Linked DNA regions of Homo sapiens. The protein of the gene in region 3 purifies or fractionates together with the protein of the main gene of each other region. This does not show direct contact. Each region holds a gene or a part of one and is shown on either strand. Other genes may lie near its edges. The genes, in order: BRME1, F11, PRCC and BCAM.

What was found.
Region 1: the proteins of PRCC (region 3) and BRME1 purify together in Homo sapiens (affinity purification with mass spectrometry; 2 studies listed by BioGRID and IntAct, with this or other methods). This does not show direct contact.
Region 2: the proteins of PRCC (region 3) and F11 purify together in Homo sapiens (affinity purification with mass spectrometry; 2 studies listed by BioGRID and IntAct, with this or other methods). This does not show direct contact.
Region 4: the proteins of PRCC (region 3) and BCAM purify together in Homo sapiens (affinity purification with mass spectrometry; 2 studies listed by BioGRID and IntAct, with this or other methods). This does not show direct contact.

What each region holds. Positions count from the first base shown.
Region 1 is NC_000019.10:13,881,916-13,889,160, forward strand, and holds the end of BRME1 (break repair meiotic recombinase recruitment factor 1), read right to left. Parts: intron 4,141-7,245; coding exon 4,046-4,140; intron 3,580-4,045; coding exon of another isoform or gene 3,204-3,579; exon of another isoform or gene 2,588-3,203; intron 1,486-2,587; coding exon 1,393-1,485; intron 1,038-1,392; coding exon 887-1,037; 3' UTR 433-886; downstream 1-432. UniProt on the Homo sapiens protein: Meiotic recombination factor component of recombination bridges involved in meiotic double-strand break repair.
Region 2 is NC_000004.12:186,261,445-186,269,422, reverse strand, and holds the start of F11 (coagulation factor XI isoform 1 preproprotein), read right to left. Parts: upstream 3,235-7,978; 5' UTR 3,128-3,234; intron 2,288-3,127; 5' UTR 2,287-2,287; coding exon 2,232-2,286; intron 1-2,231. UniProt on the Homo sapiens protein: Factor XI triggers the middle phase of the intrinsic pathway of blood coagulation by activating factor IX.
Region 3 is NC_000001.11:156,763,408-156,770,534, reverse strand, and holds the start of PRCC (proline-rich protein PRCC), read right to left. Parts: upstream 3,001-7,127; 5' UTR 2,764-3,000; coding exon 2,296-2,763; intron 1-2,295. UniProt on the Homo sapiens protein: May regulate cell cycle progression through interaction with MAD2L2.
Region 4 is NC_000019.10:44,811,947-44,819,191, forward strand, and holds part of BCAM (basal cell adhesion molecule isoform 1 precursor), read left to right. Parts: intron 1-216; coding exon 217-445; intron 446-531; coding exon 532-602; intron 603-1,303; coding exon 1,304-1,400; intron 1,401-1,491; coding exon 1,492-1,674; intron 1,675-2,205; coding exon 2,206-2,342; intron 2,343-2,657; coding exon 2,658-2,814; intron 2,815-6,575; coding exon 6,576-6,691; intron 6,692-6,794; coding exon 6,795-6,936; intron 6,937-7,109; coding exon 7,110-7,245. UniProt on the Homo sapiens protein: Transmembrane glycoprotein that functions as both a receptor and an adhesion molecule playing a crucial role in cell adhesion, motility, migration and invasion.

The DNA.
Region 1 (7,245 bases), on a different chromosome or scaffold from region 3:
CTGTAAACTGGGGATGACAGCAGCCCCTGTGGTTGCTAACAGGACTGTCATCTGGCTCGAGAGGCTTGCGTGGGATGAGAAATGCCACGACTTCAGCCATGTTTGCATCCATAACCTCCTGGGATGGCCTCCTTCCTGTCTGGGGCCCACAGGCAGCTTGTCCTGGAGGATGGGCCAAGCCACCGGAGCGCAGGACTCACCCTGCAGCTGGATGATCGCCCAGGGCGTCTCTTAGGCTTCGACCCGCGTGTATGCTCAAGAGCCTGCACACAGATGTGGGCACACAGTCACCCACCCCTGGAGATTCGCCCCCCCCTTGCTTTCCCAGGGAAGCTGAGGCATAAAACTCGTAGAGGGCGAGGAGGAGGAAGTGGGTAGAGAGGTTTGTGGGCGGAAGGTGAAGGAACTGAAGCCTCAGCCCCAAACAGCAGGTCACGGGGCCTCTACAGAATCATTTATTATGGGTCTTCCCAGAAGAAATAAAATGGAAATGGGGAGAAAGAAAACAAAGGGAGCTCTCTTCTCCTCCAGGAAAGAAACAAATTCTGAACCATCCATACTTGGCTCAGGACCCTAAAATTTGCAAATCCGGACAGGATGGGCCCTGCTCAGAGGTGGCCAGCTTCCTGGAGCCCAGGCCCGCTTGAAGTCACTGGGGCTGTGGGAGACACAGTTTCCCTCCCTGAAGCCAAGGGTGGCAAATGACCTTGACCCTGGCCAGGTGAGGCCAGGACCTCACGGCCTCCTTTGTGTTGTCCATGGAAGACCAACTTCCGGGCAACTGAAGGGAGGTTTGTAGGGTCCACTAGGACCCCCTGGAGCATCTTGGAGGAGGTCTGCGGACATGGGGGCTGGGTGGCAAAGGAAACACAGACCTCAAAGTGGCCTACAACTCCCTCCAGGGTGGGTCCCCTCGAGGGATATTCCCAGGCCCCTTGGAAGGGTAAGGCAGGGGGGCTTTGCCTCCCAGCTTTGTCTTCCGGTAGTTAAGGCGCTTGAAAGCTTCCAGGTCCCGGTGGGTGCCCATGATCAGCCGGCTGTGGGGGAAACACAGGCATGCGTGTGGGGCTCAGTGGTCACCAGGTGACAGAGGGGGCCGCGCCTCACAGCCACATGGTCACCAATGACTCAGGTGCACACACACGGCTCACACACGTGCACATAACCAGAAAGGGCCTGTTGTAGCACAGGCTGGGCCTGTTGCAGCCTTTCTTCAGAGCCTGTGTTCTGCAAAGGACGGGGGAGGGGGGCCACGGTGAGGACCCAGCAGCAGTGAGGTGCCTGACCCTCGCTGCCCACCTAGGGGCTTCACACTTCAGTCCCTCCCTGCTCCTCTGAGTCCCCACTGGCCTCCCGCAGACCCTGTGCCGTGAGTCCAAGCCCACCCCGTACTTCAGGTTGGAGAGCTCAACGATGAGGCCACGCACGACGTTGGTGGCATCCTCCATCCTGGAGGCCTCAGAGGCCTGGATCCCCACGAAGGTCCTGGCCAGCAGGGAAGGAAATTGAGAGTGGCCCGACCTCACTGGACTACCAGAGCTCTCCAGTGGGAGGGGCTTCCGCAGGGCCTCGCGCCATCTTTTCCAGGTGTCCAGCCTGTCCTCCTCTGTTCACGACAGAACCCTGATGGCCAACCCAGCTGGCTCCACTGCCCAGCAGGCCCAGAACCCAACCGCTTCTCCCCTACCTGCCCTGCCCTCTCAGGACGCTGCTGCCACCGCCTCCCTATCTCCTGCCCCTGTGGCTTGTCCCCCACAGGCACTGGGGGCTGTGAACTTGGAAACCTAGCTCAGAGGCAAGCCCTCTCCTCCCGCAGCTGTGCACCACCTGCCTGCCCCGTGCCCTCCCCTCATCCCCCGCTTCTCCCCTCCCCTCGGCTCTAGCCACACTAGACTCCTGGCCATTCCTTGAGCACCTCTCAGGATTCTGGAATGTTCTTTCCCAAATGTCTCCTCCTGGTGGTGGCTTCCCTGATTCCTCCTTACATTTTAACCCCTTCTCCGCTGCCTTTTTTTCCCCAACACTCTGCCATCTGACTATCTAATCTGCTGTCTCTCATGTCCCCACACCCCGAATCCCCCAGTAGCATTCAACTCTGTGTTTTGTCCCACACTGCCTCCCCAGCACCCAGGGCAGTGCTAGAAAGGCCAGCCCAGATGGCATTCATATCCTTGGAAGGTTTGGGAGGTCAAGGTGGGAGGATGGCTTGAACCCAGGAATTCAAGACCAGCCTCGGCAATGTAGTGAGACCCCCATCTCTACAAATAATACAAAATTAGCCAGGCATAGTGGTGCGCGCCTGTAGTCCCAGCTACTCAGGAGGATGAAGTGGGAGGATCAGTTGAGCCTGGGAGATGGAGGCTACAGTAAGCTATGATCCTGTACACCAGCCTGGGCAACAGAGCAAGACTCTATCTAAAAAATATCCCGCCAGGCACGATGGCTCATGCCTGTAATCCCACCACTTTGTGAGGCTGAGGCAGGTGGATTACTTGAATCCAGGAGTTTGAGACCAGCCTGGGCAACACGGCAAAATCCCATCTCTAAAAAAAAATATACAAAATTAGCCGGGTGTGGTGGCGGGTACCTGTAATCCCAGCTACTTAGGGGGCTGAAGTGGGAGAATCATGCGAGCCTGGGAGATCGAGGCTGCAGTGAGCTGAGGTTGCACCACTGCACTCCAGCCTGGGTGATGGGAGTAAGACTGTGTCTCAAAAAAAAAAAAAAAATCACGGAAGAGCCAAGGAGCCACAGAACACCTCCCCCACCCCACAGAACAGGTGCCACTCTCAGACACAGGCAGTACAGGTGGCCAGGCGGGTAAGTGGGGGCCACCCGCCCTAAACCCGCCCATGCCCCAGGCTTCGCAGCACCTCCGGGGCTGTCACTATGGAAACTGCTGTCCTGCTGCTCCTGCCTTGGTCACCCTGAGGTGTCTGGCAGCCCCTGGGTCTTAGCCTCTTGTGTGTGTCATTCAGCCTCAAGCCACCAAACCAGACCCGGGGCCCTCTGGGAGCTTCCAGACATCCAGGACGGTGGGGAGGGGAGCTGCATTGGCCCTGGGACGCTGTCGGAGATTCAGATGTGAACCCTCCCGGCTCTTCACTCAAACCACAGCGGGCCGCTCTGATGAACTGCCTCTGGTCCACGTGCAGGTTGTGTGTGTGGCTAAGGGAGGTGGCCAGTGGCACAGCAGGTACAAGTCACAGGGAGTGACGGCAGGAGGCAGGGACAGAGCCGCCCTCTGCTAGGGGAGGAGAAGGAGGAGGAGGGTGTGGGGGCCACACACAGCCAAGGGCTGAGTCCCAAACCCTCCTCCACCCCTGCCAGACAGAAACAGAAACTTGGCCATAAATAATTGATAAGCTGCCGCCTCTGCAGAGAGGCAGGTTCAAGTGCCAGGTAACAGAGAGGGCAGCCACCCAGCGCTGGCTTCGAGGAGGGCTGTGGGAGGGCACGGGAGGAGGGGACAGGCTGCGGAGACCCCGGGCATGGTGCGGGGGAGAGGGTGCCCTCCTCACACACAGCAGGCTGGAGGACGGCTCACTGGTGGCCTGTGGGAGGGAGGAGGTGGTTCGCCTAGGGCAAGAGCCAAGTGGGGAGGGGAGGAGGTGAGGGCAGGTTAGACTCACTCGGGTGCCCGCCTGGTGCCAGAGCTAGGAACAGCTCCAAGATGGTCTCAGCCAACAGTTCTGAGCCCTGTCTGGGTCCCCTCCCCTTCCCAGGGACTCAGGAGGAAGCTTTGGCCCCTCTTCCCAGAGAGAAAGAGCCCACAGAGCCGGAGGCACTGTCCCAGGGCTCCTGGGGAGCTTCTGGGTGGGGAGATGCTGGGTTGGGTGTCGATCACTGGTCACTGTCGCCCATTCTCTGCTTTCGGGGAGCAGGGGAATGTATACAGTTTGAAAGACAGGGCTCAGCTCCCCTGCTGGACTGAGGAAGTCGAGGCCCAGGGAGGGAGAACTGGGGTCTGTCTCCTCCATCTGTCACCCTCCTTGGTAAAATTTGTGAGGGTCCTGGAGCCACTTCTCACCCACGCCACACCTACCTCGGCTGGGCCTTGGCCACTGCAACAGGGTCTCCATTGGCATGTGAGCTGGGGCCCGGCCAGCAAGGGCCCGGCTTGTTCCCCGAAGGAAAGAGCTGGAAAGAGAGCACAAGGTGTGAGTGGTCGAGGCCTGGGTCGGGCAAGCTCTGCACAGGGGAACCAGAAGTCACGCTGATGCTTTTGGCTTCACCGCGGCCACAGCAGGTCACATCGGGGCTGGCTGGGACTCCTGCAGAGGAAGAGCGGTAACGGGGAGGAAATCCACGATGGGTAGACCCGAGGCTACCAGCCTGGGCTGCGCCCGTCCTTTCCCCTTGGAAAGAGAAAGGCCACAGCCAACCCTGGTGTCCGCTCCTAGGCCCGGGCCTCCCACAGGCTGATCTGGGCAGTGGGGGCACCACTGTGCCATGATCTCTGGCCCTGACACCACTGCAGTCTCCTGCATGCCCCTCACTGTCTTTACGGGTACAGAGAAAACACAAAGCGGGGGCAACTGCGGTGAAGTGGAGTCGTCTACCTTGGCTGAATGTGCCACAGACATCCTGTTAGGAAAGGAGTTTGCAAATATAACACGAGGGGAAAACTCCCAGTGAATACAGGGGAAAGCCTGGTAACTCCACGGCGCTTAAGCTTCTAAGCGTCAATGGTGGTTTAATTTCCATGGAAAATGTTAAGCTCCGTTACAGTGGTGACCTATGATGTCCCTCAGAAAAGAGGCAATGAGCCAGGCTGGGGACACCTGTAATCCCAGCACTTTGGAAGGCTGAGGTGGGAGGATTGTTTGAGGCCAAGAGTTCCAGACCAGCCTGGGCAACACGGCGAGACCCTGTCTGTACAAAAAAAAAAAAAAAAAATTAGCTGGGCATGGTGGCACGCACCTGTGGTCCTAGCTACTTGGGAGGCTGAGGCAGGAGGATCAACTGCTTGAGCCCGGGAGGTTGAGGCTGCAGTGAGCTGTGATTGTGCCACTGCACTCCAGCCTGGGCGACAGAGCAAGGCCCTGTCTCTAAAATTTAAATTAAATGACTCCATATGCAGATTGCAGAAGCTCCATCAGTCCAAGAGTGAGTGCAAAGGATCTATGAGAAAGTAACACCAAACCCTCCCATGACGAGACCTTGGTTTGAGGTTTGAAAGCTCTGTCTCTGCTGTGTCACCTCTGAGTCCCCTCCTCTAGCACAGTGTGTGGCCACAGTGAGGTCAGGAGGAGGTGCTGAGACGGCCCGCTCGATCCATCTTTGCTGTTCCCCGTGCCCCTGCCCATGTTGGGAGACACGGGCCTCGGCCTTCCTGCCGGGAGCCACCCGGAACCTTCCCACGGGAATGTGTTCCTTGCCTGGGTCGCCTCAACTTGCTGGGGAACGCCTCGTGTCAAAGCCAAACACGCCCAGGCCCTGGCAGTGCTGTCAGGGCGGTGCCTCCTCCCCTGGCTGGGGAAAGGCTGCTAATGCTGGTCGGGTTTGACCAGCCTGGCTGTCTGTCTGGATCCCCCCAAGTCTGGATTTCAGGGTCTTTTTCCAAGCTTGCAGTTTGGCAGCCCGTTTAGGAGGGCTAGGGGCTTCACCTGCTGGATGCCACCTAGGCACACCTGGCCCCAAACACCTTAACCATTTCCCAGCCTTCTCTCCAAGCCACCACTCACGAGACCACAGACTGGAGGCAATGGAGGCGGCTCTTCTCTCAAGCGAGGGATTTGCATTTTGCAAGGCATGAAGCTCTCATAAAATTTCAGCTGTGCCCAGCACCAGAACTCCTGCCTTTCCCACATGCTCGTGTTCAGCCTCTACCACTGAACCACACTGTGACTCACTTTTTTTTTTTTTTTGAGACAGGGAGTTCAGCACCCAGGCTGGAGTGCAGTGGTGTAATCTCGGCTCACTGCAACCTCAAACTCCTGGGCTCAAGTGATTCTCCTGCCTCAGCCTCCCAAGTAGCTGGGACTGCAGCCATGCATCCCCATGCCTGGCTAATTTTTTCTTTTCTTGAGAGAGTCTTGCTCTCTTGCCCAGGCTGGAGTGCAGTGGCGCGATCTTGGCTCACTGCAACCTCAGTCTCCCAGGTTCAAGTGATTCTTCTGCCTCAGCCTCCGGAGTAGCTGGGATTAGAGGCACACGCCACCATGCCCAGCTAATTTTTGTATTTTGGTAGAGATGGGGCTTCACCATGTTGGCCAGGCTGGTCCTGCTCTCCTGCCTCGGTCTCCCAAAGTCCTGAGATTACAGGTGGGAGCCACTGTGCCTGGCCATGAATTTTTTTTTTTTTTTTTAACATCTCAACACAGGGACAGCCAAAGAAACAGAGGCTGACATTTGAAAAGCAAATTGGACTCTGCGTTCCAGGACGCGGCGGCTGGGGCATGACCTGGGTGCCAGCCTGGCCTCCTCCCCTCCCACCTGCCTCACCTCTAGCAGGCGCACGAACTCCTCCAGAGTCTTCACTGCCACACCCAGTGTGTGGACAGAGAACTGCCTACCTCCCTGGGCGTGACTGTGATGCCCTCAGCCCAGGCTCAGGTGTGCCAACGGCTAGGGAGGTCGCTCTTTCCCTGGGGGGCAGGGCTGAAGCAAGGCTGCCATCTGCCCAGACAGGAGAATGAACGCCAACGGCTGGCACCGGCTCTGGAGCCAGAGGAGGCCACATCCGGGCAGCCGGTGGGGCGGGCAGATCCCTGAAGGAGGCAAAGCCCTTACACGTTCTGGCAGAAAAACAAAATGACTTATGTATGTTTGGAAAAGAATCATATCAGGACCCCCAGAGGACCCTAAGGAGATGGGCAAAGGCTCTTTTGCAGCTTGGGAGTGAAGCCCCCTCCCCAGGCCCAGGTATAAAGCCATCCCCAGGCCCAGCTTCTCTCCATCTGTGTCTACCCGCCTCAATACATCCCCTGGGACCCCACGGCCAGGGTCAGGCACTGAAGCAGAAGCTGCCAGGGGCTGGCACTCCTGGGGACTCCAGTTCAATGTGGGGGGCCCGGCTGAGAAAGCAGCTGTGTGTCACCATCCCTAGATATGTCGACAACCACCAAAAGGCAGGTCTACACTTTCTGGAAAACCACCGACTCCACACCCAGTAGAGCTGCAACTCGGACTCCTATAGTCGTTGGCTGTGTAAATGGTAAGCCCTGAGCCCCAGCTCCCCCTCTGCCACTGCACCGAGTGAGGAGGGGGCTTGTGGAGGTTGGGTGCCTGCCCTGGGCAGGT
Region 2 (7,978 bases), on a different chromosome or scaffold from region 3:
CTTTTTAGGGTTGAGTAATATTCCTTTGTATGTATGTACCACACTTTATCCAGTCACCTGTTGATAAACACATGGGCTGCTTCCACCTTTGGGTTAGTGTGAATAATGCTGCTATGAGATGGGTGTACAAGTATATCTGTGTGAGTTCCTGCTTTCCCTTCTTTTTTTTCGGTATGTACCCCGAAGTCACACATCTATTGATTTTTGAATGTTAAATCAACTTTTCATTCCTGGAATAAACCCAACTTTGTCACAATATCACAATGTAATCATCCTTTAATTTTTTTAACAATCTACTGGGTTAAGTTGGATAATATTTTGTTTAGGACATTTGTACATATGTTCATAAGATAAAAGACCTGTGACTTTTTTTCCTCAGAATTTTCCTATCAGATTTTGGTGTCAAGATTACCCTGACCTTATAAAATGGGCTAGAAAGGGGTTATGTTGACCTCTCAAATATGTGTGTCTTCCATTTAATTAATTTCTGCGATTTCTTCTTTCTGCCTTCTAATTTCTTAGCACTTAAGTTGCTATTCTCTATCTTCTTGTCATCTTATATCATTAATTTTTCCCTTTTCTGTATTCTAATGTATACATGTAAATCTATACATTTGATCTCAACACTGATTCGGTTACATCTCAAAGTTTTGATATACTGTACTTTCATTATTGTACAATTCCTTTTCTAATTACCATTGTGATTTCATCTCTGATTCATCTTAATCTAAAAAGGTATAAATACTCAATTTTCAAACATTTGCAGATTTTCAATTCCCTTTTTATTATTATTCTAGCTCCCATTCACGGTGATTATAAATACTCAATTTTCAAACGTTTGCAGATTTTCAATTCCCTTTTTATTATTATTCTAGCTCCCATTCACGGTGATTGAATAACATGATCAGTATAATTTTAACCCCTTAAAATTTGTTGAGCCTTGTTTCAGAGGCTTGTGTGTGGTCAATATTTGTAAATGTTCCATGTGCATGTATAAAGGACCTAAATATGTACACTATCATTCCTTGATATCTATGAGGGATTGGCTGCCAGACCTCCTGCAGATACCAAAATCCATGAACGCTCAAGTCCCTGATAGAAAATGGCATAGTATTTACATATAACCTACTCACAGCCTCCTGTGTACTTTAAATCATCTCTAGATTACTTATAATACCTAGTACAATGTAAATACTATGCAAATTGTTGTTATACTGTGTTGTTTCGGGAATAATGACAAGAAAAAACTCTGCACATGTTGAGTGCAGATATAATTTTTTTTAAAAAATTTCACTTCAATGTTGTTTAAATCCATGGATGTGGAACCCCTGATTCAGGGTCAATTGTTTATGTAGTTATTGGGTCCAGTGTTCAAAATATATCAAATTATTTAGCGCTGACATATTTATCAATGAAATAACAATACAATTTCCAGATAATTATAACAAAGGAATATTATAACCTGAGCAGTAGTCTTGTCACAGAGAAAATTGAAATTATGAGCTGTGTAATTTAATATATTAAGTGGAATTTACTTTTAATATCTTCACCTAGGTTTGCCTTTTTTCACATAGGCCAGCAAAAAGAATTTACTATGCTTAAAATGCTAGCAATAGTATCAGAAATTAAATATAACATGTAGACATAAGCTATTTTTCTAAAGGAATGCTTCAGCTTTCATTTTAAATAAAGAATGGTCATGGAACTAAACAATACCTGTACTGATATATCCTACTTAATATTGGCTAAGTAATTTATAAACAAATTTAGCAGATGTGACATAGGGTGGAGAATTAACAGGGTAGTTAAATTATTGAAATGCATAAACTGTGTATGAATAGTTACATAACATTTTTCAGTACAAAATTCCTATTTTATGTGTGTGTGTATGTTCCATTGAACTGACTGCTTTATGAAAAACCAACTAATTAGTGAGGCAAATCAAGATTTCTTCTTTTTAATATTGCTTTTAAATATCATTTAAATGAATGATGTATGTAGGCATGGATGTAGATATGGTACACATATAGACACAGATTCCTACCAGTACAAACAATTTTTTCACCTCAATTCCTACCCTGCTTTGAAAACCTCTGGAGCCTCAGGCAGGAAGTTAATAAAAACATTTTATTTCCTTCCCGGCATAAATGGTGTGGGATTCTCCCACATGTGTGGAGATTGCAGTGTGATTTCCCTCTCCCAGCCCATAGTTAAGATAACACTCTACTTACCACCAGAAACTGAAGTAAATAAAATGAAATGTACCACTTGATATAAGAAAATCATCCTACAATGAGAAAAAGGTGCATGCTTTTAGAACATAAAATGTAAATTTATAATTAGTTTACTGACACTAAGACTTACAAGAAATAGGGAGAGAGGGGAGTAGTTAATTCAATAGCATTCACAGTGTTCTCATTATAATGTTGAATTTTCTTTCCCAATCCTGGAGCATTCCTTAGTGTGACTGTGTGTGGCATTCAACTCTTACAGCTCTGCAGAAGCCGGAACCCACAGGGAAGCAGCGCTCTCCCCTCCTCCCTCCTTCCCCGCCGGCCCCGCCGCTCTCTGTGTTCAGATCCTTCTCATGGCCACCATCTGACCGCTCTCCCCACCCCAATTTTTCATCTTTGTTTCCTTTCCCAATTTTTTTCCTTTCTTTCTTTCCTTGAGGCCTCTCCCTATATCTTTCAAAGAGCTATGAATGATTTCCTACTTAGAAAATTTTCTATTTAAAAAAGTCTGTGGCTGATACATTAATCGATTGTCTTGGTCACCTATAAATCTATTTATCTCCAGTAAGCATTAAACAGACTGCTCTAGGAAAAACGGAGTCATCAGTGAGACAAATCAAGACTTCTGATTTTTCAGTACTGCATTTGGATGTCTTTTTAACTCGTAAAACGCTTGTTACTGAGTAGACACTGTTACTCTTCTGTTGTTCCACATTTCCTCTCAGATTAGTTATGGATATTAGCGGAACATCTCTACAAAGCTAAATCAGACACATTTTAAAAATCAATCATTCTCTATTGTAAAGTGTTTTTAAATTCCTATGATTTAAAAAAAGCATTTCAAGGCGTATTTGCTTGAGAGGAATGTTAAATAGTAAGTTCTGAAACTGTACCTGAAAAGACCTTGTTGGCTTACTTGCTGCAATTCTTAATAAGGGTGCTTTTCTTCCTCCAAAATGGTCTTCATCCTCCTCTGAATGAGCTTGTGTAGGAAATGGTCACTTCACTTTAATATTTACTTGTACTAGTTCTCAATGTTATGTAACATTCTCTCTCAGTACAGCATATTTGTGAAAGTCGTTAAAATCTTAGTATGTCAGAAATATACCTTGAGAGAATTGCTTGCTTTCTCAATACACTGAATTTATTTTTTTAATTTTATTTCGTATTCAAACAAGTGACATACACAGGGACAGATGTAGAACTTGATTTTGCCTGTGTGCCTGCTAGCCAAAGCTGCATTTAACCACACTTTCACCTGTCAGCTGTTAACCATTAATTCTAGCTGACCTTGAATCTCAAAGTCTAAAAAGAAAACATGGAAAGTCTAATGGATTCATTGATTTGCAATATAATGGAGGGAGGAGACTTTGGCTGCTGGGGGAGAGCGGACGGATGGGAAGCAAAGTACAGACAGCTCCTAAGAGCCTGGCTCTTGCCCAGTCAGTTTCCCTTCAGGTGACGCTGCCTCTCAGAGGCCTAAGCAGATAGGATTCCTCCTAAGGCCAAGCTTTTTTTTTTTTTATTCTTACTTGTGAACACTAAAAGTCTATTTTTTAAAACAGAAAAATAAGCTATTTCAGCTTGCTTGCTTCTTACTTTCTTTCTTTTCTTTCTTTCTTCTTTCTTTCTTTCTTTTCTTTCTTTCTTTCTTTCTCTCTTTCTTTCTTTCTTTTGAGACAGAGTCTCTCGTCGCACAGGCTGGAGTGCAATGACGCGATCTCAGCTCACTGCAACCTCCGCCTTCCAGGTTCAAGTGATTGTCCTGCCTCCGCCTCCGGAGTAGCTGGGACTACAGGCCCGCGCCACCACGCCCAGCTTATTTTTTTTTCTTTTTTCTTTTCTTTTTTTGTATTTTTAGTAGAGACAGGGTTTCACCATGCTGGTCAGACTGGTCTCAAACTCCTGATCTCCAGTGATCCGCCAGCCTCAGCCTCCCAAAATGCTGGGATGACAGGCATGAGCCACCACGCCCGGCTTCTTTTAGCTTTCTTTAGGTCCTGGGACACAGACCCGAATGGAGAGCTAGGAAGTGACATGTCTAGCAGCTGCATGACTGTCAACGAAAGCACAGCACGTCACATCCCTGAAGGAAAGGGTGGTTTTGTCCTGGAGGGAGTCTTCCCACTGGACAGTGGGAAGTGGGACACTGGACAGTGGTAGGACCTGGCGTTTATAGGCAGGAAAGTTTGTGAAAAAATTCTGGGGTGTTTCACATAATTATATTTCCATGAAGGCCTTCCCTTTGGCCTTGAAGAAGGTCTGAAAGCCTATGGAGGGCATGTTCATCCATGCCAACTGCTACCCAGACCTACTCACTGGCTGACGAGTCATGTGACTTGAGCGGAACCAGCCTGTGCACAGTCCCCAGCCACCTGCAGGTCCTTGGCTTCCGTTTCCTCATTTAGAACACAAGGCACTAACTAGTGCTGAGGGTTTCTGTGCGGTCCCCTAAAAAACCTCACAACACGAACACAAAACAGTTTTCAATATGCCTGATTTGAATACATTTTGGAGAAAGATACGTTTATGGTTCAGAGAAGGCTCTCAATTTTTCATAGAAAAGCAAAATACGATCTTGTGTTTATACATGGAATCATAATTTAAAAAACATATTTGGAAGACCGGGGAGAAATGACAGGGAATTAAGAGAATGTGAACTGAGAACAGATCTTTTTGTAAAGTGCTGAAGAACTAGGGTGATGTTCTATCTGGAAGGCATTTACTCAGATATTTTTATTTGATCTATTGCCAGTGCATTTGACTTATCCTGGCATAAAGAGTTCCTAGCTGTTTTCTTGAGTTTCCCGTTTAAAGTACATTCCAGCTACCCAAAAAGTGCATATTTATGATGCATTGCCTTTTATGAGGCTCAAACATAGAATGGCAAATTCGTGCCAAGAATGGCTTTCATGGAAAATGGATACGTGAGATTATATGAGGTCCTTATATCCTTGTATTGTTTACTCCATGGAACCTCATCTCTCTTCTTAAGCCCCAATAAAAAGAAGATAAGGATAACTCTCCAACCCTATTGAGAGAAACAGAAAGGCTCTAAATAAGAGAAATGCTTCACTGGAAAACCAAATAATATTTTCCTAAGTTTGATTTAGCTAGTTAGTGAAATCTTTAAGGTCTTTGAAATAGTATCAGGATTCAAAAAAATTTTGTCTATTCAAATAAAAGTAGAATAATTTTTTTTCAGACAAGGTCTCACTCCTGTCGCCCAGACGAGAGTACAGTGGTGTGATCTCCACTCAACGCAGCCACCAGGTGATCCTCCCACCTCAGCCTCCTGAATAGCTAGGAATACAGCCGCATGTCACTCCGCATGGCTAATTGTTGTATTTTTTGTAGAGACAGGGTTTTGCTGTGTTCCCCAAGCTGGTCTGGAATGCCTGGGCACAAGCGATCCACCTGCCTTGGCCTCCCAAGTGCTGGAATTACAGGCATGAGCCACCGTGCCCAGCCTAGAATAAAAGTCTTGACTACATAGAAACTCTTTGAGATTAAATAGACCTTTCTTTTAAACTGACCATAGATATCCTTAAAAAATTATTTTCAACTAATGCATTGCAGTTTAAAATTCTGATATCAACTACTTTTTTCAATTTTTTTTCAATGAAATGAAATGTTTTTGAATATTCGAAGACTGATGAAAATGAGGAATAACTAGACAAAGTCTTAGGAAGAATATAGAAGTTAGTCTGCAGAGACCCAAGTACAAGTCAGAAGTTAGGATTCTAAATCAAAAAGTATCTGAGACAGGTCCCAATCAATTTAGAAAGTTTATTTTGCCAAGGATAAGGATGTACCTATGACACAGCCTCATGAGGTCCTGATGACATGTGTCCAAGGTGGTCAGGGCCCAAGCTGATTTTGTACATTTTAGGGAGATATAAGACATCAATCAATCTATGCAAGATGTACATTGGTTTGGTCCTAAAAGGTGGGACAACTCGAAGAAGGGAAGGGGGCTTCCAGGTCATAGGTAGATAAGAGACAAACAGAAGCATTTTTTCGAGTTTCCAATTAGCCTTTCACCAAATACGCAATTTACAAGAATAGTCACTCATGCCTTAGTGTGGCCCAGTGAAACAATATGGCAAACGAGGCAATCAGATACGCACCTGTCTCATGTCAGCAGAGGGGTGACTCTGACTTCTGCCTGTCCTTTTTCCACAAGGAATTTCCTCATGGGCAAATTGTGAGGAATGTAGCTTTTTAAAACCTTTTTAAAGCTTAAAAAAGGTTTTTTATAGCTTAAGAAAGCTATTTTATTTAGGAATAGAATGGGAGGAAGGTTTGCCCAATGCAGTTCCCAGCTTTACTTTTCCATGTGGCTTAGTGATTTTGGGGGTCCCGAGGTTTGTTTTCTTTCCAATGGATCATAGGTGGGAGATGTATTGGACATTTGGACATATTGTGACCTAAAGCCTTCTGCTTGGGACAGGAATGTCCACAACGGCATTAGTTGACTGAGACCCCTTCTCAGGCATGGCCATAATCAACTCTCAGAGCTCCTTCTCTTGTCTTTCAGAACTTGCTTTGAAAATGGACACAATAAAAAAGAAGGAAATCATTCCATTTGCAGCAATGTGGATGGAACTGGAGGTCATTATGTTAAGTAAAGTAAGCCAAGCACAGAAAGACAAACATTGCATGATCCCACGAAAGATGATTTCATGGCCGTAGAGAGTATATGGTGGTTACGAGAGGCTGGGAAGGGTGTGTGTGGGGGGGTGGTGGTGAGGACGAAGAGAGGTTGGTGAAGGGGTACAACCACAGAGTTAGATAGAAGGAATGCTTTCTAATGTTTGACAGAAGAGTAGGGTGACTGCAGTCAACAACAAGGTATTATAGTTTTCTAAATAGCTAGAAAAGGACTTGAAATGTACTCAACACATAGAAATGGTTGGGTGATGGGTATGCCAACATCCTGACTTGATCATTACACATTCTATGCACATAACACAATTTCACATGTGCCCCACAAATATGTACAAATAGAATGTATCAAAAAGTAAAAAATAAAGGAAGAGAAAGGGCACAGCCCGCCATGTCCTACAACCCCTTTCTTGCTGTTCCTGAAATGTCCTCTTTTGTTTTTCTTTTTCTTTTTTTTTTTTTTTTTTTTTGAGACGGAGTCTCGCTCTGTCGCCCAGGCTGGAGTGCAGTGGTGTGATCTCGGCTCACTGCAAGCTCCACCTCCCGGGTTCACGCCATTCTCCTGCCTCAACCTCCCGAGTAGCTGGGACTGCAGGTGCCTGCCACCACGCCCGGCTAATTTTTTTTTTTTGTATTTTAAGTAGAGACGGGGTTTCACCGTGTTAGCCAGGATAGTCTCGATCTCCTGATCTCGCGATCCGCCCACCTCAGCCTCCCAAAGTGCTGGGATTCCAGGCGTGAGCCACCGCGCCCGGCCGAAATGTCCTCTTTTCATTACAAGGTTTTAATGCTGACATGAGATCAGGCTTTCCCAACCCTGGCATTATTGATATTGGGGCAGGATAACTCTCTCTTGCGAGGGGCTGTCCCACACACTGCAGGATGTTTAGCTGCATCCCTGGCCTCTACCCACTACAGCCAGTTGCATACCCTCTCCCATTAGGACAACCAAAAGTGTCTCTAGACGTTGCCGAATGTTTCCTGAGGTGAAGGGAGGACAAAATCGCTCCGGGCAGAGAAACACCAGTGTCAGTTGATAATGAAAATAACAAATGGTGGTTATAAATGCTCTGTCA
Region 3 (7,127 bases):
GGCGTGGTGGCACATGCCTGTAATCCCAGCTACTCGGGAGGCTGATGCAGGAGAATCGCTTGAACCCTGGAGGCGGAGGTTGCGGTGAGCTGAGATTGTGCCATTGCACTCCAGCCTGGGCAACAGGAGCGAAACTACATCTCAAAAGATAAATAAAGACAAAGGTTACCCTCACCTGACCATCTTGAACATTCTTAGGCTACCTTTCTGCAGGAATTATGTGTTCCGAGAACCAAAAGACCAACTTGAACAGAACAAAAATGGGAAACTCAACCAGCAAGGGCTAGGACTTTAATTAGCCATGTTACTGTTCACCTCAGAAATTTAGTGAATGCTTACAAAGGAGGGAGTGTTAGTCTTCAGAGTTTTCTGCCACCTCAGCCAACCCAAATGGCAGATTCTACGGCCTCTCCCAACTTTCTATAATGCTACCTTCACAGAGCTAGAAATGAGCTTTCCATGTCCATGTAGACTGTTTTTATTTGTCTCATTCAGGGATCTTTCCTTGTTCCAGGTTAAATCAAAGCCAAAGTAAGTTTCCATGGAGCAATAAAAGGCTTTTTTTTTTTGGATCCTAGACTTAGGATGAGAGACTCTCAGGTGTGAAAGAAGGGGGAAATAAAATGGAAGAAAGTGGCCGGGTGCTGCGGCTCACGCCTGTAATCCCAGCACTTTGGGAGGCTGAGGCGGGTGGATCACGAGGTCAGGAGATCGAGACCATCCTGGCTAACATGGTGAAACCCCGTCTCTACTAAAAACACAAAAAAATTAGCCAGGCGTGGCGGCGGGCGCCTGTAGTCCCAGCTACTCGAGAGGCTGAGGCAGGAGAATGGCGTGAACCCGGGAGGCGGAGCTTGCAGTGAGCAGAGATCGTGCCACTGCACTGCAGCCTGGGCTACAGAGGGAGACTCCGTCTCAAAAAAAATAAAAATAAAAAAAATTTAAAAAAAAAAGGAAGAAAGTTTCAAACAAGATTGGGAGGGAAACTCTGGAAACTCCTTCCATGAAAAATCCATATTGGAGTTCTTTCACTCACAAAATATCCATGGGAGTATTCAGTATGTGCCAGGCACTGTTTTAAGTACTAGGGTTATAGCAGTGAATTTTTTTTTTAATCCCTGCCTTCATGGAGTTTATATACTAGTGGGAGGACAGATGATGTTAAGTGCAATGGAGAAAAATAAAACAAAGAGCAATGGGGAGGAGGAGGTGATAGGAGGTTGCAATTTAAATACATAGTAGGCTAGGGAAGTCCTCACCGAAAACAGGCCTTTTAGGCCAAGTGAGGTGAGGGAGAGAACATTAGGATATCTGAGAGAAGAAATTTAAGGAACAGCAAGTTCAACGAATGGAAATGGCTCCTAGGCAGAGCTGGGAGTCTGAAGAAAAGCAAGGGCAATAAATTTCTCTCCGGTAAGTAATTCTAAGCAGTTCCTGCTCCAAGGCTTAATCTCTCCTTTATCTCCAAAGCCCTCACTCCAGGAGCCTTGTATTTTTCCACTGTCACATATAGAAACAGGTAAGACTCGCTGCCTCTTCTAGAAACAGTACCCAAGCATCCTAACTCACCTAGCTTTGACCATAGCTAAATGATGAATATGAGGCACAGATCTGAGGTTCAGAGAGACTGAACCTTAATCTTAATCTTCACTCTGCCCTGTTACCAGGTAAAATCGTGCATGCTGGACACCTGTTTCTCATCTGTAAAACAATAGTATGTTACCTCCCAGAGCTCTGTAATAATTGAAAGAAAGGACCAATGAACGGCAAATGATCTGCACTAAACAAATATTCGATTTCTCCTCTAACTCCCCTCAAAAATAGAAACCAAGATTGCTATCATTTTCCTCCAGGCCTGATGCTTTTGAGTTCAGAGGCAAGGAAAAGATTTGTCCCAGATGTTCGGCAAAGGTTCAGGAGCCCTGTCTCCTGTCATTCTTCAGGTGCCAGATTTCATCCTGTTCTCAGTAGGAGGAAAGGGGAAAAAGCCGGACTGAAGTGAAGATGCAAAGAAGGGGGAGCGGATCCAAGTGTCCCTAGGCCTGTCAGTACCAGGTGATGATGACATGTGGCCTTCTGCAGGCAAGCCCAGCTTCAGGAAACCCACATGGGCAAACACCCAAACTCCCCCAAGTTGACCAACTTCAGCTCAATTAATCGCATTATAAGAGGATTCCAGTGGCCTTGAATCCACGGATGCGTTTGTAGGAAGGAGTTCTGAAATCTCCACATGTCCCTCCTACAGCCGACTCAAACCCGATGGACAGTTTGGGGGTGCCTTCCCCGGATACTCACATCTCCCTTATGCAACTCCGGCGCCGCGATCTTCACGGGCTCTTTCCTCTTCTTTGGCTTGGGAAGCCCCAGCGGGGGACCGGCACCGCCAATTGGAGGGGGCAGATTGAGGCCAGGGCCTCGGGGCGAGGGCAACCCCAATCCCAGTCCCTCCCCAACTCCCGCCGCTTCAGCCGGGCTCACGCCTGGAGGTGGGGGGAAGCCTCCCAGGCCGAAGGGCAAGGGGGGAGGAGGCTGAAGCCTGGGGTCTCCGGTGGGTGGGGGAAGCAACAGCGGCGGGGGAAAGGCTGGCGCCAGCATCTGAGGGGGCGGAGGCAGCAAGGCCGGACCCTTGGGCGCAGGGAGAGAAGCGAACAAGCCCCCTAAAGCGGGCCCAGATGTAGGAGCCACCGCCTCCTCTTCCTCCGGCTCGGGCTCAGCCTCATCCGGCTCGCTCTCATCGCTGCTGGCGTAAGCAACCAGCGACATGGCGCCTCCCGCGTTTCGGGCGCCCTTGCCGGCAGATGAGGCCTACTTGAGACCGGGGATGCCCGGAGGCCTAGTAGGCCCCGCCACCTGGCGGGGCGGGGAACCGAAAAGTCCGCCTGCTCCGTACTCTAGGGCTAGCCCCGGCAGAAACTCATGGCTACGGCTGATTTCCACCGAACAAGGCGTACCTCTTCACTTAAGCTCCTAGTCCCGGGCAACTACACACAGCTAATGGCCGCCGAGTCACTCCGCCTCCTCCTTGCCTCACCAATACAGGAACTACAACTTCCAGAGAACACTTTGGACACAGCCCGGTTCTTTGCCGCAGGGATCTCAGCGCAAGGCACGGCGGGAGTTGGAGTCCGAGGAAGGATTTAGGGGCGAGCAAAGGGAGACAGGAGAGAAACCCGCCTCTGACGCAGGGACACCTGGGGTGAGTAGTTTTTTTCGTCGCCTAACAATTCCGAGGTGACTACAAGCCCCACCGGTCACCACGGCAGTCACTGAGACGGACAGGAGAGCATTTCGGTACTTGAAGTTCCCTAGGGTAGCCCCTTGGCCACTAAGATTTCTGGGAGATATGATGCTCTTAGAAACTGCAAGTGATGTCGGGAACGAAAGGGAGTCTGGGAAGCTGGCGGATTGAGGAAAATTGCTTAAAGGCAAAGTGATCTGTAAATGAACTGGTGAAGCTTCCCAGTCGGCTGGGACTGGGAATTAGAATAAAACATCCCAAAAAGAGCAAGGGCCCAAGGGACCCGTACGAAATTGGGCTGCAAGCCAGAAAGAAGCGAGGCTGCAGGTCTAATAATAAGCATCTAAGAGTTGAAATAAATGTGACGTAAAAGGGAGGAGGTGATCTCCCTCACCAGGATCGGGGTGCACATCCAGGAACACACCTTACCCTGGAGCCTGGGGCCTGGCCTCCCTCTGCAGCAACCAGTGAGACAAAGATGGGCAAGGCTCTGACAATCCGGGCCAGGTACTTGAGGTTAATCCCTTCTCAGCTCAGTGGGGTAAAGGGCGACCGTTCTGAGGAATCACTTGAGTCCGTCCTACCTGGCTGTGCCTCCCACCTATCCATTTGCAGATGTCCTTTACATTCCTTTACGTCTGTGAGTGCTGCTTCTTATGGCTTTGTATGTGACTTTCTTACATCTGTCTCTGTAAGTGCCCTTCCTTTCCATCCATGTTTATAGGAGTCCTTGTCCAGCCCATTTATGTCTGCTTGTGATGATCTGCTGTGCGCCAGTCCTTCCCTGTCCGCTTGTGATTTTGTATCCTTTTCTTGTTTACCCATCTCTGCCCCCTTCCTGTCTGCCTGTGACTGAGTGCCCTCTACTTGTCTGCCCTGTATGTGTGTGTCCTTTACATGCTAATTCATCTCTGTGTGGGCACCACCTCCCTGTTCCCAGATTGCAGAAAATTCTGTTGAGCGAAGCCAGAGAAAAGGCTGTTGAGGTTTTGGGAGGAGGCTGAAGAGAAAATTGGAAAGGTTGATGAGGAGGGACAATGATGACCACAATGCAGAGAGACAGTGAAAGGCCCAAGCTTGAATCCTCTATCAGACGAGCCTGATATGGGGCACCTCCTCCCCAACCTCTCCACCCTTCAGAGACAAACTCCATGCTGCCTTCTCCATGAAGGCTCCTTAGAGCAATCTGTGCTCAAACTTTAATGTGCATAAGCATCACTAGGAAAGCTTCTGAAAAATATAAATTCCTGAAATCTAGCCTAAGAGATTCCTATTCAATAGATGTGGGTTGGGCCTGGAAGCCTGGATCTGTAAGAAACTACTCAGTTAGTTGCAAACCAGGCACTGAGGACCACATTGAGAAACTAGACCATCAAGTCCTACCTCACAGCTAGTATGCCTTGCACAATGTTGATTTCTAAAATCTGCTTTCAAATCTAGGTTCCCCAACGTACTCTCTGGTGACTGTGCGGTCACTTCTCTTCTCTGAGTCTCACTTTCCTCCTTTGAAAAATGGATAAAGTAGGCCGGGTGTGGTGGCTCACGCTTGTAATCCCAGCACTTTGAGAGGCAGAGGCTGGTGAATCACGAGGTCAGGAGTTTGAGACCAGCCTGGCCAAGATGGTGAAACCCCGTCTCTACTAAAAATACAAAAATTAGCATGGTGTGGTGGCGGGCGCCTGTAAGCTCAGCTACTCGTGAGGCTGAGGCAGGAGAATCGTTTGAACCCGGGAGGCAGAGGTTGCAGTAAGCCGAGATCACGCCACTGCATTCCAGCCCAGGCAAGTGTGCAAGACTCCATCTCAAAAAAAAAAAAAAAAAAAAGAAAGAAAGAAAGAAGGAAAGAAGGAAAGAAAGGAAAGAAAGAAAGAGAAAGAAAGAAAGAAAGAAAAATGGATAAAGAAGGTCGGGTGCGGTGGCTCACGCCTATAATCCAAGCATTTTGGGAGGCCGAGGCGGGCAGATCACCTGAGATTGGGACTTCGAGACCAGCCTGACCAACATGGAGAAACCCCGTCTCTACTAAAAATATAAAAATTAGCCGGGTGCGGTGGCGGGCGCCTGTAATCCCAGCTACTCAGGGGGCTGAGGCAGGAGAATCGCTTGAACCCGGGAGGCGGAGGTTGTGGTGAGCCAAGATCACGCCATTGCACTCCAGCCTGGGCAACAAGAGTGAAACTCCGTCTCAAAAAAAAAAAAAAGGGCGGGGGGGGCGCGGATAAAGTATTACAGAGCCCTGTCCTACTTCTGTGAGAAATGCCTGATACTAACACACAGTGAAATGCCTTAGAACTAAGAGAAATGATTGTCCTTGTTGTTTGTCAACACATCTTGCCAGCTTGCAGAGAAGCCCCTAAAGGACAGGGACCTGTCTCAAATGTTTTCTTTCTTCTTCTTTTTTTTTTTTTTTGGAGATAGAGTCTTGTACTGTCGCCCATGCTGGAGTGCAGTGGCGCAAATTTGGCTCACCGCAACCTCCACCTCCCAGCTTCAAGTGATTCTTGTGCCTCAGCCTCCCGAGTAGCTGGGATTACAGGTGTGCACCGCCATGCCCAGCTAATTTTTGTATTTTTTAGTAGAGACGGGGTTTCACCATGTTGGCCAGACTGTGTTTAACAAATGTTTTCTAAGCGAGGATCCCCTTACTGTGAAAATTAATGATTCACCTTATTGGGTATAAATCCTCAAAAAGTGTTTTCAAGCAAGAAATTGATAATAGAAACTTCATGAAAGTGAAGGAAAGGGGATTTATTTCTCATTATGTACCCTTTTATACCTGTAGAAATTTGTAACTGGGCAAGGCCAGGCGCAGTGGCTCACGCCTGTAATCCCAGCACTTTGGGAGGCTGAGGCGGGCGGATCCCCTGAGGTCAGGAGTTCCAGACCAGCCTGCCCAACATGGAGAAACCCTGTCTCTACTAAAAATACAAAAAGCAGCTACTCAGGAGGCTGAGGCAGGAGAATCGCTTGAACCCGGGAGGTGGAGGTTTCAGTGAGCAGAGATCATGCCACTGCACTCCAGCCTGGGTGACAAGAGCAAAACTCCATCTCAAAAGAAAAGAAAAAAAAAGAAATTTTTAACTATGTACGGTGGCTCACGCCTGTAATCCCAGCACTTAAGGAGGCCAAGGTAGGAGAAGCCCTTGAGTCTAAGAGTTGGAGACCAGGCGTGGTGAAACCTTGTCTCTACAAAAACAAACAAACAAACAAACAAAAACAGAAAAAAAGCCGGGCATGGGCATGGTGGCACACACCTGTAGTCCCACCTCATTGGGAAGGGCTGAAAGAGGAGGATCGCTTGAGCCTGCGAGGTTGAGGCTGCAGTGAGCTGAGATCGCACCACTGCACTCCAGCCTGGGTGACAGAGCATGACCCTGTCTCAGTAAAAATTTTAAAGAATAGAAATTTAGGCCAGGCGCGGTAGCTCATGCCTGTAATCCTAACACTTTGGGAGGCCAAGGCAGGTGGATTGCCTGAGCTCAGGAGTTCGAGACCAGCCTGGGCAACACGGTGAAACCCCGTCTCTACTAAAAATACAAAAAAGTTAGCTGGGCGTGGTGGCGTGCACCTGTAGTCCCAGCTACTCGGGAGGCTAAGGCAGGAGAATTGCTTGAATGCGGGAGGCAGAGGCTGCAGTCAGCCAAGATCGCGCCACTGCACTCCAGCCTGGGCAACAGAGCAAGACTCCGTCTCAAAAAAAAAAAAAAAGAAATTTGTAACTGGTACATCTATGAGCCTTTCGAAAGTAATCATAATAAAAGTTTTCCAGTAAAACAGAATGAGGGCCGGACATGGTGGCTCACACCTCTAATCCCAGCACTTTGGGAGGCTGAGGCGGGTGGATCCCAAGGTCAAGAGATCGAGGCCAGCCTGGCCAACATGATGAAAC
Region 4 (7,245 bases), on a different chromosome or scaffold from region 3:
TGGGACCGGAATGAGATGGAGAAAAGGAGACAGGAAAAATCAAGAACTGATAGGGAATGGGGGCAGGAGAAGGTGGGGAGGGACAGAGGGACCAGGGAGACCCATAACAAGAGGAAAAGAGGCAGAGCCAGGAGCTGCAGAGAGAAAGGACCCAGAGAGAGAGAGACTGAGGAGCGCTGGGACACCCGGAGCTGAGAGCCTGCCCCGCGCCCACAGACCGACCGCTCGGGAGCTCGCCCCCGCCTAGCCTCGGCTGAGATGCAGGGCTCTGAGCTCCAGGTCACAATGCACGACACCCGGGGCCGCAGTCCCCCATACCAGCTGGACTCCCAGGGGCGCCTGGTGCTGGCTGAGGCCCAGGTGGGCGACGAGCGAGACTACGTGTGCGTGGTGAGGGCAGGGGCGGCAGGCACTGCTGAGGCCACTGCGCGGCTCAACGTGTTTGGTAAGTGTCCTCGGGCATCCCCCGAAGGGAGGCAGGCAGGGAGGGGCGCAGGGCAGGGGCTCCTGACGTGAACGTCTTTTTCACAGCAAAGCCAGAGGCCACTGAGGTCTCCCCCAACAAAGGGACACTGTCTGTGATGGAGGACTCTGCCCAGGAGGTACCTCTCGGGTGGACCTTGGCCCCAGGGTCCTGGAGGAGGAGGGGACAGGGCCCTGGACTCCTGGGTCTGAGGGAGGAGGGGCTGGGGACCCCTGGGTAATAAAGGAGGAGGGGTAAGGCCAGGCGAGGTGGCTCATGCCTGTAATCCCAGCATTTTGGGAGGCAGAGGCAGGCGGATCACCTGAGGTCAGGAGTTCCAGACCAGCCTGGCCAACATAATGAAACCCCGTCTCTACTAAAGATACAAAAATTAGCTGGGTGTGTTGGTGTGCAACTGTAATCCCAGCTGCTCGGGAGGCTGAGACAGGAGAATCACTCGAACCCAGAAGGCAGAGGCTACAGTGAGCTAAGATCACACCACTGCACTCCAGCCTGGGCCACAGAGCAATACTCCGTCTCAAAAAAAAAAAAAAAAAGAAGAAGAAAAGAAAAAAGAAAGGAAGGGCAGAGGGGGAAGACTCCTGTGTCCTAGGAAGGAGAGAGCTGGGGGACCCAGAATCCTTGGTCCCTGGAGGATGGTGCTGGAGGCCTGGACTCTTTAGTCTGAGTCGGGGACTAGGAATTTGGACTCCTGGGTCCTGGGAGAGTCGGGAGTTAGGAGCCCGGCTCATGAGTCTGAGTGGGGAGAACTCCTGAGAGAGGAGCCCCGACTTCAGAGTCCCAGCTCCAAGCCCAGGGCCATGCCCGTGTCTGCCTCAGATCGCCACCTGCAACAGCCGGAACGGGAACCCGGCCCCCAAGATCACGTGGTATCGCAACGGGCAGCGCCTGGAGGTGCCCGTAGAGATGAACCCAGGTGAGCAGCGCAGGAGCGCGGCGGGACGTGGGCTGGGGTGGGTGGCGGGGCTATGGCCTGGCTGACTGCCACCTCCCCCGATCTCTCCCAGAGGGCTACATGACCAGCCGCACGGTCCGGGAGGCCTCGGGCCTGCTCTCCCTCACCAGCACCCTCTACCTGCGGCTCCGCAAGGATGACCGAGACGCCAGCTTCCACTGCGCCGCCCACTACAGCCTGCCCGAGGGCCGCCACGGCCGCCTGGACAGCCCCACCTTCCACCTCACCCTGCACTGTGAGTCTGTGCTGGCCTTTGACCTCTGACCTCAGGCTCCACACCTCATGAGGCCTGACCCTCCACCCGGGGGCTTCACACTCCCCTCTGACCCTCTGCCTCCCTACTTCATGCTAAAAAAAAATGTGCTAGTGCTGGCCACTGACCTCTGACCTCAATTGGTCGCACAAGCCCCATCCTGACCTCTGACCTCCGACCTCCACTTAGCACCCTGGACCCCATGAAGTTTATGACTAAATGGTGCTTTCCACCTTCTCACACTGAATTGGGTCCCCCCATGACATCTGGCTCCAAGTCTCACACTGACCCATCGCCCATACGGACCTCTGACTCTTGACCTATACTCTTAGTTTATTTCAACCTCTGAACTCTGGCACTCAGAATAATTGTGAACCTGAGGCTTGAAACCTATGACCCGTAACCTTTGACCCGCCATAGCCCTCACCTGGGATGCAGGGCTGACCTCTCGCCTGTCCTCTAGCCTTGACCCTTCCCCTGATCACAATTCCCATCTCCCTGCCCTTCCCTTAGATCCCACGGAGCACGTGCAGTTCTGGGTGGGCAGCCCGTCCACCCCAGCAGGCTGGGTACGCGAGGGTGACACTGTCCAGCTGCTCTGCCGGGGGGACGGCAGCCCCAGCCCGGAGTATACGCTTTTCCGCCTTCAGGTGACCCACCCAAGGGTCCCTCTGGGATCCACCCCCCAGCCCCTGACCTCTGTGACCTGCTAACCTGCATAACTTCTAATGTGGGACCTGGGAGTCCCCATGGCTTAGGCAGCCACCTGATCTGGTGGCCCACGAACTAAAAGGACCTCTGACCCCTGATTTGAGAGAGTCAGGACTTAGCATGCCACCTGACTTGATGGCCCCTGACCCCTGATTCTGGCTTAGCATGACACTAACCTGGTGGCTTCTGACCTAGCATGAGCCCGCTGAACCGGGGTGGCTTCTGAGCCTGGTTCCTCGTCCCCCGTCTCCCAGGATGAGCAGGAGGAAGTGCTGAATGTGAATCTCGAGGGGAACTTGACCCTGGAGGGAGTGACCCGGGGCCAGAGCGGGACCTATGGCTGCAGAGTGGAGGATTACGACGCGGCAGATGACGTGCAGCTCTCCAAGACGCTGGAGCTGCGCGTGGCCTGTGAGAGCCCTGGGTGAACGGGCGGGCAGGAGGGGCCCTGGCATCAGTGCCTCTGCGCCCTCCTCCCTACAGCCCTGAAGTTGCTCTGTCATCCCAAACACTCTGCCTTCAACCCTTTCTCTGCATTTCTTGGGGGTTTTTTTGGTTGTTTTTTTTTTTTTTTTTTTCCCAGAGACAGGACCTGGCTACGTTGCCCAGGCTGGTCTCGAACTCCTCATGCGATCCTCCTGCCTTGCTCTCCCAAAGTGCTGGGATTACAGGAGTGAGCCACCGCATCTTGTCGAGAGCTCTTTCCATAGCACAGACCTGACCCTCCTCTGCTCAGAATCTGCCATGGCTCCCCAGTACCCTTGGGAGAAGCCCAGGTGTCTCACCATGGCCTTCAAGGTCCACCTGGCCAGTTCCACCATTAGCTAGCTGATCCTTCTCCCCAGTCAAGGCTATCTCCTCATCACCCCCCAGGCTCCTCTGGTTCCTACCTTCACTGCCCATCCTTCCTACCGTCTATTTCTCACCAATCCCTTGAATCCCAGGCTTCTAAGAATGATTTTCAGTTCATTCGCATCCAGGCCCTGGGGAAAGGCTGTATTCTCCCTTGGCACTTCTTACATATCCCTTCCTGGGGTAGACCCTGCGCCAGATGCTGGGGACACATCTGTGAACAAGACAGACCACCCCTGTTATTTCAGTAGGGGAGACAGATGGTAAATGCTAACTAAGCCCTTTCGTAACAGTAGTGTATCTACAGGTGATATCACCAGTGAGAGAGAGCAGGAGAGGGGATTATTTTAGGTGGCAGGTGTTGCAGTCTGCTTTCCTGAGAAGCAGATTCTGACTTGGATGTTTTCAGGCAAGAAGTTTATGGGAAGTACCCTGGGTTCCGCACCTCTTGGGTCTAGGGAGGTAAAGGAAGCAAGATTTGGCAAGGTGAGAAGTTGGACTGAAGTCTAAGGAAGGTCTCAGGCTGGGTGCAGTGGTTCATGCCTATAATCCCAGCACTTTGAGAGGCTGAGGCAGGAGGATTGTATGAGCCTAGGAGTTTGAGGCCAGCCTGGGCAACAGAGGGAGACCCCATTTGCACACACACACACACAAATTAAAAATTAGCCAGGCATAGTGGCACACACCTGTAGTCCCAGCTACTCGGAGGCCCAGGTGGGAGGATCCCTTGAGTCTGGAAGGTTGAAACTGCAGTGAGCCAAGATTGTGCCACTGCACTCCAGCCTGAGCGACAGAGAAAGACCCCGTCTCAGGAAAAATAAAAATAAAAAAGTAGGCCGGGCCCCGTGGCTCATGCCTGTAATCCCAACACTTTGGGAGGCCGAGGTGGGTGGATCACCTGAGGTCAGGAGTTAGAGACCAGCCTGGCCAACATAGTGAAACCCCCTCTGTACTAAAAGTTAGCCGGGTGTGGTGGCATGCACCTGTAATCCCAGCCACTCAGGAGCCTGAGGCAGGAGAATCGCTTGAACCCAGGAAGCGGAGATTGCAGTGAACTGAGATCGTGCCATTGCACTCCAGCCTGGGCAACAGAGTGAGACTCCATCTCAGAAACAAATAAAAGAAAGAAAGAGGGCCTCAGTCAGCCCCACGGGGTACTTGGAATCCAGGATGGCCCTTCACAGTTGTCCCCAGTTGGGGTGAGGGGGCTGGGCCTTAATAACCTCTACATCAACCAGTCCTCAGAGGTGTGCTGGCCTTAGGCAAGGGGCTCTCAGCAGCTGAGGCAGCTCCCAGAGAGGGGTGACAGCTGCAGGCTGACAGCTGTCATCCTTCTTAGCAGCTGGTGGAATAAGTCCTTCCGTGCTGTAGGAAAGATCTGGGTGTCCACAATAGGGGAGGTCAGGGAAGCCTCTGAGAAGAGACATTTAAGTGAGACTCAGAAAAGCAGACAGCAGCCAGGCACAGTGGCTCACACCTGTAATCCCAGCACTTTGGGAGGCCGAGGCAGGTGGATCACCTGAGGTCAGGAGTTCGAGACCAGCCTGGCCAACATGGTGAAACCCCATCTCTACTAAAAATATAAAAATTAGCCAGGCATGATGGCTGGTGCCTGTAATCCCAGCTACCCAGGAGACTGAGGCAGGAGAATCGCTTGATCCTGGGAGGCGGAGGTTGCAGTGAGCTGAGATCGTGCCACTGAACTCCAGCCTGGGTGACAGAGCAAGAGTCTGTCTCAAAGAAAAAAGAAATTGGCCGGGCACGGTGGCTCACACCTGTAATCCCAGCACTTTTGGGAGGCAGAGGCGGGCAGATCATGAGGTCAGGAGTTTGAGACCATCCTGGCTAACACGGTGAAATCCCGTCTCTACTAAAAATACAAAAAATTAGCTGGGCGTGGTGGCAGGTGCCTGTAGTCCCAGGTACTCGGGAGGCTGAGGCAGGAGAATGGCATGAACCCAGGAGGCAGAGCTTGCAGTGAGCTGAGATCCCGCCACTGCACTCTAGCCTGGGCGACAGAGCCAAACTCTCTCAAAAAAAAATAATAAGAAGAAGAAATGCAGAGAGCTACAAAAAGAGCACTGCAAGTAGAGTGAGCAAGTGCAAAGGCCCTGAGGCAGGCCCCAACTTGGTCTACTCAAGAAAAACAGCAAGAGAACGGGGTAGCTGGGAGCACAGGAGGAATGGGGAAGAGTGGGAGATGGTTCAAGAGGTGGGTGAGGGCCAGACCAGGCAGCATCTTTTAGGCACCCTCAAGAAGTTTGGCCTCGATGCCAAGGGTACTGGGGAGCCACTGCAGGGTTTTATGCAGAGGGGAGGGATGACCAGTGGGTGGTTGGTTTTTTTTGTTTTTTTTTTTTTGAGTCAGAGTCTCACTCTGTCACCCAGGCTGGAGCGCAGTGGCACAATCTCGGCTCACTGCAACCTCCACCTCCCAGGTTCAAGCGATTCTCCTGCCTCAGCCTCCCAAGTAGCTGGGACTATAGGCATGCACCACTATGCCCAGCTAGCTTTTGGATTTTTAGTAGAGATGGGGTTTCACCATGTGACCAGGGTGGTCTCGAACTCCTGACATCAGGTGATGCACCCGCCTCGGCCTCCCAAAGTGCTGGGGTTATAGGCATGAGCCACCGTGCCCGGCCTGACCAGTGGATGTTTTAAAGAGGTCCCTCTAGCTGCTCAGTGGAGGATGGACAAGAGGGAGGAGCAGGCTAGTGAAGAGGTGGTTGGGACAGTCAAACCTGGGGCCAGAGGTGGCAGGAAGCCAGAGGATTTGTCCTGGGAGCAGACCAGATAAAGACTTGCTGAGGCCAGGAGCAGGGGCTCACGCCTGTGATCCTAGCACTTTTGGGAGGTCAAGACAGGAGGATCACTTGAGGCCAGGAGTTTGAGACCCAGCCTGGCCAACATAGCAACACCTTGTCTCTATTCAAAAACAAAACTTTGCAGAAAAGATGTTTGGGGGTAACAGGGAGGTTACCCCACAGGTTGGGGTTTGAGCAAAAGGTTTGTGTGCTAAAGTCACAGAAGGGACACCTTCCACACCTAAGGTTATTCATTAACCTTGGGCTCAGATGTCAGCTCTGAAGAAAAGTAATTGACTTGGGCATGTCAATGTTGGGGTTAGACTGCTAGATTTTTGGTTGGAGAGCCTGGATGGGAGAATGGAGATTTCATGGAGATGGGGTAAACCAGGAGGATTACTTGCTGTTCTCTGCTTCCAACTGTCCATTCATGTTTGCACCCCCGACCGCCCCTGGAGAGCCCCTAATTGAGTGGGTGGCGGTCTGGGACGAGTGACAGACTGTCCCCCACTGCAGATCTGGACCCCCTGGAGCTCAGCGAGGGGAAGGTGCTTTCCTTACCTCTAAACAGCAGTGCAGTCGTGAACTGCTCCGTGCACGGCCTGCCCACCCCTGCCCTACGCTGGACCAAGGTGAGAGGGAGAGGAGCCCCCTCGGGCCCTGCACTCGCACCCTCCTCTCTCCCCTCACTCCTCGCCCTCTCACAGCGTCCTCCTCCTCCTCTGCCCTTCCCAGGACTCCACTCCCCTGGGCGATGGCCCCATGCTGTCGCTCAGTTCTATCACCTTCGATTCCAATGGCACCTACGTATGTGAGGCCTCCCTGCCCACAGTCCCGGTCCTCAGCCGCACCCAGAACTTCACGCTGCTGGTCCAAGGTTCAGGGGGCAGGGAGGGGGTGGGCTTGGATGGGGACAGTGTGGGGTGTGGGACCTGGACAAACAGGACGAGTTCCTGAGTCCCTGGCTGGGGACTCCATCTTCTGCTCGATGCCTCTCTTCTCTCTCTCTCTCCTCTCCCTTCACTTTCTTCCCATCCCCACCACCCACAGGCTCGCCAGAGCTAAAGACAGCGGAAATAGAGCCCAAGGCAGATGGCAGCTGGAGGGAAGGAGACGAAGTCACACTCATCTGCTCTGCCCGCGGCCATCCAGACCCCAAACTCAGCTGGAGCCAATTGGGGGGCAG